2 linked regions of the Homo sapiens genome follow. The protein of the gene in region 1 purifies or fractionates together with the protein of each later gene. This does not show direct contact. Each region holds a gene or a part of one and is shown on either strand. Other genes may lie near its edges.

The links.
Region 2: the proteins of WRAP73 (region 1) and CNOT9 purify together in Homo sapiens (affinity purification with mass spectrometry; 3 studies listed by BioGRID and IntAct, with this or other methods). This does not show direct contact.

Annotation. Positions count from the first base shown.
Region 1 is NC_000001.11:3,639,025-3,644,576, forward strand, and holds part of WRAP73 (WD repeat-containing protein WRAP73), read right to left. Parts: intron 1-5,552.
Region 2 is NC_000002.12:218,594,185-218,597,580, reverse strand, and holds the end of CNOT9 (CCR4-NOT transcription complex subunit 9), read right to left. Parts: coding exon 3,305-3,396; 3' UTR 501-3,304; downstream 1-500. UniProt on the Homo sapiens protein: Component of the CCR4-NOT complex which is one of the major cellular mRNA deadenylases and is linked to various cellular processes including bulk mRNA degradation, miRNA-mediated repression, translational repression during translational initiation and general transcription regulation.

The DNA of each region.
Region 1 (5,552 bases):
TTTTCTGTTGTTGTTGTTTTATACCAAAATTGAGTGACACAAAGTTAAATCCAAGTGCTTTTTCATTAGCTTTTTCAAAGTGACCATAGGTTGCATGTTATAATAACCCTGAGTTACTCAGAGAAAAATCTTGATCTAGAAACCACCACGGGTTCAGTCTCCTTTATGGGAAGACAGAGGATCTGGAGATTGGATGCAGCCACTCCGGGACTCACCAGGGGGCTGTGAGCCTGCATCTGCAGCCCTGAGGCAGGAGCAGCCACTCAACACCCAAGAAGGTGTCCGTCTGCCTCCTGCGTGTGCTCGCTGGCCTGGCTGCATCTGCAGAGGGTTCTAGAACATGCGCTGCTGGACTGTCCACTTTTCCACCCCTTTCCCTGACTCAGGGAGCTGAGAGCTGACTAGGCTGGCACAGTGAGGCCAAAAGATGATTTTCTAACCAGGCCGACGAGGGCGTGCCTGCTGAGGGAGAGGCACCGCAGTGGGTGGTCCAGCCCTCCCCGTGGCAGCGCCGCGGGACTTCCAGGGCTGCTGTGTCCCTCCACCTGCATTTCCCACTGAGACCCCGTGGAGCCTACCAGGGAATCATCTTGCTTCCCACATCCCCGGCCCACTGATGAATCTGGTAGTTAACTGAAATATGGCCGAGGTGCGGGGACACAAGGTGCGGGGTGGGGTGCTGACTGCCAGCTCCGTGTGTGGGGACACAGGGCTGCGCAGCTCCATGTGGGGTGGGGTGCTGACTGCCAGCTCCGTGTGTGGGGACACAGGGCTGCGCAGCTCCATGCGGGGTGGGGTGCTGACTGCCAGCTCCGTGTGTGTCAGGCAGGGGTCCTCGCTGAGGATGAGGCCCGGGGTGGGGGACCGTCTCCAGCAGCGTAAGTGGGGCCGCAGCGTGTGGGGCACAGCATGTCCACAGTGTCACTCCTGCAAACGCTGCCAGGTTGTCAGTATAGGATATTAACAAATGATTTAATTTAAATGTCTACGCATCATCTCTTCTTACAACAGAAAAGAAAATCTGATGTCTGTAATTGTTTCTCCAAACAACATATACAGCGTTCAGGAGAGAAGTCCTGAACACACAGGTAGTGGATCAACGAGCTCCAGGGGTCACGTGGCAGCACGGAAGGGCTCCTGTGCTGATGCTGAACCCGAAACACACTGGCCGTTCTGGGGACCATGCCTCGGAACTCCAGCTGCACAGAGCACTTGCTCCTCTAACAGCTCCACAAGCTGAGGCCAAGGAGGGCGCTGGGGCCTGAGCGAGGAAGCGTGCTACTTCCCACCAGCGTGTCTGAGGCTGAAACCTTGCCCAAGCCTCTCAGACTCAGCAGGGTGGGTGCAGCGCCTGAGGCTCTGAGCATCAGCAGGGCGGGGTGGAGCGCCCGAGCATCTCAGCATCAGCAGGGCGGGGTGGAGCGCCCGAGGCTCTGAGCATCAGCAGGGCAGGGTGGAACACCCGAGGCTCTGAGCATCAGCAGGGCGGGGTGCAGCGCCCGAGGCTCTGAGCATCAGCAGGGCGGGGTGCAGCGCCCGAGGCTCTGAGCATCAGCAGGGCAGGGTGGAACGCCCCAGGCTCTGAGCGTCAGCAGGGCGGGGTGGAGCGCCCGAGGCTCTGAGCATCAGCAGGGCAGGGTGGAGCGCCCGAGCATCTCAGCATCAGCAGGGCAGGGTGCAGCAACGGAGCATCTCAGCATCAGCAGGGCGGGGTGGAGCACCCAAGCATCTCAGCATCAGCAGGGCGGGGTGCAGCGCCCGAGCCTCTCAGCATCAGGAGAGTCCATGTGCCACCCAGGGCAGAGACCTGCCCTCCAGAGCCTACTGCAGAGTCACAGGAGAAAAGCACATCTCCCACCTGTGGCCCTGCATCCCTGTGGGGTGCGCCTGGCCGAGGCTCCCCACTCAGGCACATCTTAGGAAACACAGGGAGCACTTTAAGCCTGATTTTTACCTTCATCTCACAAAAACAAAGAAACAAAAACCTTTAAAAGATAACTTTGCAACTTTTAAAAACCCAATAAGAAAAAAAGGTAGTTAAATATACACCTTCATCAGCGCTGTTACCTTCCACTGACCACTGGAGAAGCCAGCGGAGGAGACCCGTGGGATGGGCTCCACAGCACTCAGCAGCAGGAAGAAAGGACCAGAGGGATCCACATGACCCAGAGCACTCAGGAGGGAAGGAAGGGGCCGCTGATCCACGCTACGACCCAGTGTGCTGAAGACGGAAGGAACGGGCCACCGATCCACACCACAACTCAGCATGCTCAGGGTGAGAGGAATGGGCCACGGATCCAAGCCATGACCCAGTACACTCAAGACGGGAGGAACAGGCCACTGATCCATGCCACGACCCAGCACTCTCTCCACACCATGACCCAGCACTCTCAAGATGGAGGAACGGGCCACTGATCCACCCCACAACCCAGCACACTCAAAACCAGCAAGATGCCAGGGAAAAGGAAGCAGACGCACAGCTCCACGCACCATGGCTCTGTGCAGATGGGATTCCGAGTAGGCAGTGCTGCTCGCCCCGCAGCAGGCACCGGCTGCCGGACACAGGTGGGAGACGGACTGAGCACAAGGGGCACGAGGAGCCCCATGCCACGGGCGAACAGTCTTGGTCCTGATTGTGGCGGCAATGACGTGCAAAGTGACTCACTCAACTGTGCTCTTAAAGTGGGTGAATTCTCTTGCTTATAAATTGTTTTAATTGCCTTTATTCAGATATAAGAAAAAGTCTGCAGTCTGGATATATTTTTAAAGCTAACTATAGACTATTTACAACATACACACTCAAGTTTAAGGATGCAGAAATGTAGAAGGTAAAAGGATAGAAAAAGACATATCAAGAAAATCCTAACCAAGAGAAAGGTGGCACTGCCGCATTCGTACGGGATAAATCAGACTCTGAAACAAAAAGAACCGTGAGACATAAAGAGGAATACTTTACAACAAAAGGCCTGTGCCACCGCGGAATCATGGGAACCGCTTCACTAGGAAATCTGTTTACAAACAGTTAAAAGTTTGTATGCAGCTAACAACAAAGTCTCAAAAATACATTTAAAAATCTGGCAGAGCCGGGCGCACTGTTGTGCACCTGTAATGCCAGCTATACAGGAGGCTGGGAAGGAAGGATTGCGTGAGTTTAGGAGCTCGAGACCAGCCTGGGAAACAAAGGGAGACCCCAACTCTACAAAAAAATTGTTTTTAAAAAATCTGACAGACTACAAGAGCAATGAAGAGGAATCAGTCCCATCAGATATTCAAACACACCATAGAACCTCAATAATGTAGACAGTGTGGTGCTGGCACATAGGTGGACCAACAGTGGACTGGAATGGAAACCAGAAGTGATCCTGCAGGTATAATGGAACTGAGCTCCTGCTATAGCTGGTGAAGATAGCCTTCTAAATAAATGCTGCTGGGAGCTGGGCACGGTGGCTCACACCTGTAATCCCAGCACTTTGGGAGGCCGAGGCAGGCAGATCAACTGAGGTCGAGAGTTTGAGACCAGCCTGACCAACATGAGAAACCCCATCTCTACTAAAAATACAAAATTAGCCAGGCGTGGTGGCGCATGCCTGTAATCCCAGCTACTCGGGAGGCTGAGGCAGGAAAATCGCTTGAACCTGGGAGGCGTAGGTTGCGGTGAGCTTGGATCACACCATTGCACTACAGCCTGGGGGACAAGAGCGAAACTCCATCTCAAAAAAAAAAAAAAAAAAATGCTGCTGGGAAAAGGTAGAAATGGATTCAGACCCCACAGTGTGCCCCACTACGTGAACCTGCTTCATTTAAATGGAGCATGTGTGAGCGTCTGTGTGTAATGAAACAAGATAGGAAAGCACTCAACCTCACCGAGAATTAGGGAAACGCAAACTAAATCCAAACTGCAGTATCATTTAGTCGCCTGGATGGAATCATTGTAATCCTGCCACAAAAGCCTTGGCAAATGAAACCCCTCCGTCTGCTACGGCCAAGCAAGGCTCTCCTAGAGAGGCTCTCCGGGTATGTGCCCAGGAGACGGGGACAACACGTTCACAGCCACACCGTCCGTGGTGACGCACACGTCCAGCAGGCGAGGACTGAATGGCGTTCCTCACGAGGAAGGGAAGGCCCAGCGATGCCTGTCAACACGGAGGAGTCTAAAAGCAGTGACGGGGAACAGCAACAGCAGAGACTGCAAAGTACAAGCCCCTATAAATCAACTTTACACTGCACAGCAAGCAATGTGGTGTTTAGACACATCTGTACAGTGAGACTCAAGAACAGTGAGGATGTGATTCACGCAAGACGTGGGGCAAAGGTGCCCTCAGGTGGGGAGGGCATTGCTACGAGGAAGAGAAGGGCTCTGAAAGCGCGGCAGTGTTCCGCTGCAGGCCTAGGGGTGAGCCGCTTTTGATGACTCACTGAACCTCGTCTAATGGGCGCAAGCTTGCCTTTTCACGTTAAAATGCAAGAGGCAGGGACGTCTCCCATGCTCCACAGCACCCTCACGTGGGGTGGCGCCTTCGCAAGTGGACTCAGCGGCCCCACTAACCCCCGAAATGGGGTCGCGCCTTCGGAAGGGGACCCAGCGGCCCCGCTGAGCCCCGGACATGGGGTCGCGCCTTCGGAAGGGGACCCAGCGGCCCCGCTGAGCCCCGGACATGGGGTCGCGCCTTCGGAAGGGGACCCAGCGGCCCCGCTGAGCCCCGGACATGGGGTCGCGCCTTCGGAAGGGGACCCAGCGGCCCCGCTGAGCCCCGGACATGGGGTCGCGCCTTCGGAAGGGGACCCAGCGGCCCCGCTGAGCCCCGGACATGGGGTCGCGCCTTCGGAAGGGGACCCAGCGGCCCCGCTGAGCCCCGGACATGGGGTCGCGCCTTCGGAAGGGGACCCAGCGGCCCCGCTGAGCCCCGGACATGGGGTCGCGCCTTCGGAAGGGGACCCAGCGGCCCCGCTGAGCCCCGGACATGGGGTCGCGCCTTCGGAAGGGGACCCAGCGGCCCCGCTGAGCCCCGGACATGGGGTCGCGCCTTCGGAAGGGGACCCAGCGGCCCCGCTGAGCCCCGGACATGGGGTCGCGCCTTCGGAAGGGGACCCAGCGGCCCCGCTGAGCCCCGGACATGGGGTCGCGCCTTCGGAAGGGGACCCAGCGGCCCCGCTGAGCCCCGGACATGGGGTCGCGCCTTCGGAAGGGGACCCAGCGGCCCCGCTGAGCCCCGGACATGGGGTCGCGCCTTCGGAAGGGGACCCAGCGGCCCCGCTGAGCCCCGGACATGGGGTCGCGCCTTCGGAAGGGGACCCAGCGGCCCCGCTGAGCCCCGGACATGGGGTCGCGCCTTCGGAAGGGGATCCAGTGGCCCCGCTGAGCCCCGGACATGGGGTCGCGCCTTCAGAAGGGGACCTAGTGGCCCCGCTAATCCTCGAACGGGTCTGGTCCTTGCTCTTGTGAATGAGACTGATGGACGGTGCCCGCAGCTCACTTCCTGGCCAGCACGTCTGGAATTCCGGTTTTGTTTCCTCACTTGCAACCATTAAAGTTCGCATGCAAAGCTGGAGAC
Region 2 (3,396 bases), on another chromosome or scaffold:
GAGTGCAGTGTTCTATGAATGTCATTTAAGCCAGGTATGTTAATTGTTATTCAAATTTTCTGCTTGTTGGCCAGGCACAGTGGCTCATGCCTGTAATCCCAGCACTTTGGGAGGCTGAGGCTGGCGGATCACCTTAGGCCAGGAGTTCGAGACCAGCCTGGCCAACACGGCGAAACCCCGTCTCTACTAAAAATACAAAAATTAGCAGGATGTGGCAGCGGGCGGCTGTAATCCCAGATACCCAGGAGGCTGAGGCAGGAGAATTGCTTAAACCTGTGAGGCAGATGTTGCAGTGAGCTGAGATTATGCCACTGCACTCCAGCTTGGGAAACAAGACCGAAACTCCAATTCCCAAAAACAAAACAAAACAAACCAACAAATTTTCTATTTGTTATATCTGCTTTTGAAATAAACATATGAAAATATTTTTCCAAAAATTAAATTCCATAATGTATCAGGAAAGAAAAATATAATTTCATTCTAAGGTTTCCTATTCCAAATTTTTTCTCTGAGTTTTTGAAAGCAACAACTTTGTATATCCCCCTTTTCCTAGCCTTTAAGCAGCAGGAACAATGAGCAGAGGAATAATATGTAGTTAGTAAGCAAGGCATGCTCTGAAGGCTACCAATGCTGCTCCTGTTCCACCAGTGAAACAGGCCACAGGCCCTCTAAGGCTCTTGAAAAAAGAACGTGGAAGCATAGGGCAGCTGTGTCCCACTGACAGCCAGGCATGGAAACAATCCTGGAGATGTGCTCCAAGCCTTGAACTTGAGGAAATGAACATCAAAGTTCGTAAGATGTTTCAAGCATTACCTTGTCACTATGGAAGTCTCTCCCTACACTGGCACTAAGTTCTGGCCAATATGGCCAGGAGTGAAGTTCTGTCCCAGTAAAACATACTTTTATCAGGTAAGGGGCATCATCCCCCTCCCAGCCTCCCAAACAGCTTTTGTACCTCAGATGGAGTCTCCCCAAAAAACATGTTCACAAAAGAACCACTACTGCCATCTTAGCAGGGCTGTGTGTGTGTGTGTGTGTGTGTTGTGTAGGTAGACAGAGGGGAGAAGCAGGCATGACAAGGATCACCTGACCAAAGTGCCTAGTTACCCATATACTGATAGAATAAAATCTCCAGTGTAAAGGAAAAATTATTTTTACAAAAACAGAAGCATGTTTTATTTCAATCCTGTTAAGGGAGAGGGATGGAAAACACAAAATAAGGGGAGGGGTCTCTTTATATAATACACACACCAGGATCAACTACAATGAATAATACCCATTCCATCCCTCCCCCACCAACTCCTATGTGGGTTCCAAGGCCAGCTGAGAATAGATGGGACAAGAATTAAGACACTTTGGCACAGTAACATGGCCAATGCACCGAAAGATGGAGAGAAGAGAATTTCCCAGGGAGCAAGGCCCTGGGCCTCAGCTGCTTCCCCAGTGGAGGGGTAATGAGAAAACTTTGGCTCAGCAGGAAGGCGGTTGTCAAAAATCTGGGTTACCTTAACTGGACTCTCCAGATCACAGACTACGGGCTGAATAGAGTCAAGATGTCTATCCAGTCCATTCTGTTCTCTGCTTTCTCTAAGATCACTTCTCTTCAGGCTTGCAATTATTGAGGGTTGGCCTGCTTCTCCTCTTCATCTTGGAAGGCAGGGGGAGTAAGTGCTTATTCTGCCCTTCCTATATCTAGGCCACTTAATTACTATTTTCTTGGCTCTAAAGAGACAGAAGCCAACTAACAAGTCCGGCTCTCTTTGTGAAAGTCGGCTTGAAAGAGCCCTTGTGTTGGCAAAACTGCCTCTGCAAATGGGTTTTTTTTTTTTTGAGCCTACCCCTTATAGACCCTCCCCAAGCTTGTTCAGACACCTCAATTGTGTGAGATGTGGGCAGAAAAGACTTGGTCCCTCTCCAGAGTTGGATTAAGCAATCCCATCTTTGACTGGAGATAGGGATGAGAAAGCAGGTGCTAGCAGGGGAAAGAACCGGGGAAAGCAAGGCAGTTTACACTAGGTTGCAGATTCAAGCCTATGGATTGTGAAGAGCCACCTAAGCTCCAGAGAAGAGGAAATCTCTGACACGATATGAACAAGTGAATATTTTAGCGGCAACCCTGTAATTCCCATAGACTAAAAGAGAATGGTCAAAAAAAAAAAAAAAAAAAAAAAAAAAAGACTGAGTGAGCAGAACCCAGCCCTCCATCTTCAATCTGAATAAAATTAACTCATACAGCTAATACTGCTCAAGTACAATCATGAAGACAGATGGAGCTGCTGAAATTCACACTAAAACAAAGAAAAGGATCAAGTGGACTGTCACCTTAATCCCAAGCACCTCCCTTTTAGAGTTATTGAGAAAATATCTTTGAAAACTTGGATTGAAGGTGAGGTCCACCACCGCCCCTTGTCTCCCAATACAATACCCTTCCAAGACAGCCTGATTAATTAAGACATCTGTTTTAAGTTTAATAGAAGGGAAGTTCAAAAAGGGAAAGCACTGAGATTTGGGAAAACTAGCAGCTAAAGCCAGAAACAAGGTTAAGGTCCTCGTGGCATTCCGGACTGGGAGTAGAATGGGAGAAGGAAGGGAAACAGGTGGTGGGTTCCTGCTGTACTTTGGCTTTACATCTTTCCCCTGCCCTCCCATTTCTCCCAACAGCTTGATGCAGCTATTGGCCTGCCAGAGGGGATGTAATGCCCAGACCAACTTTTTATTGAGCTTATGCAGCTAACAGACTTGTAAACAGTGCCAGTCGACAAAGTTTTGCTGAATATTACAGCTTGTGCCCACTAAACACACCTCTCTCTGAGATTAAAAACAAAAAAACCAAAGTAAACAAATACTGAGAGAGAATGAAGAGACATATCTTGAGTCTTCCAGAAAGGCAAAATAAAAAACGCCACATGGCTTGGTCCCAGGCGTTCACCATGCCTAGAGTGCTGCTGCTATCACCACTGTCTCCCCTCCCTGCCAGTGGCTAGGTAGAGGTAGGGGAGAAGGGTCATCTTGGACATGCTGCAAATACAGCATTTGCTGGTGTTGACACCCTCCTGGGGCTGTGGTGGCAGACTGCTGTGTCAGGAGCCCATTTCCTGGGAGTAGCAGAGGGAGCCCAGGTCCTCAAGACAGCCTGAGATGGCAGCCCATACACCTCAGCAGGGGTACCTTGCCCCTTTTCTCCAGTGCGGTTCAGCATTGAGGTTGTCTATTCCCAGTCGGTGATAAAACCTGAGCTGTTTTTCTCGTAGGTTCCCCCTCCTTTCCCCAACTTGGGGGAGTAGTGGGAGGGAACAGGGAAGGATCACTGAGGGGGCAGGGGGATACCCCGGGGATCGGTGACCTGGCCCTCTTGCAGGTTCTTCACCAGTTGTGCAAGCCAGCGTTTCGTGGTGG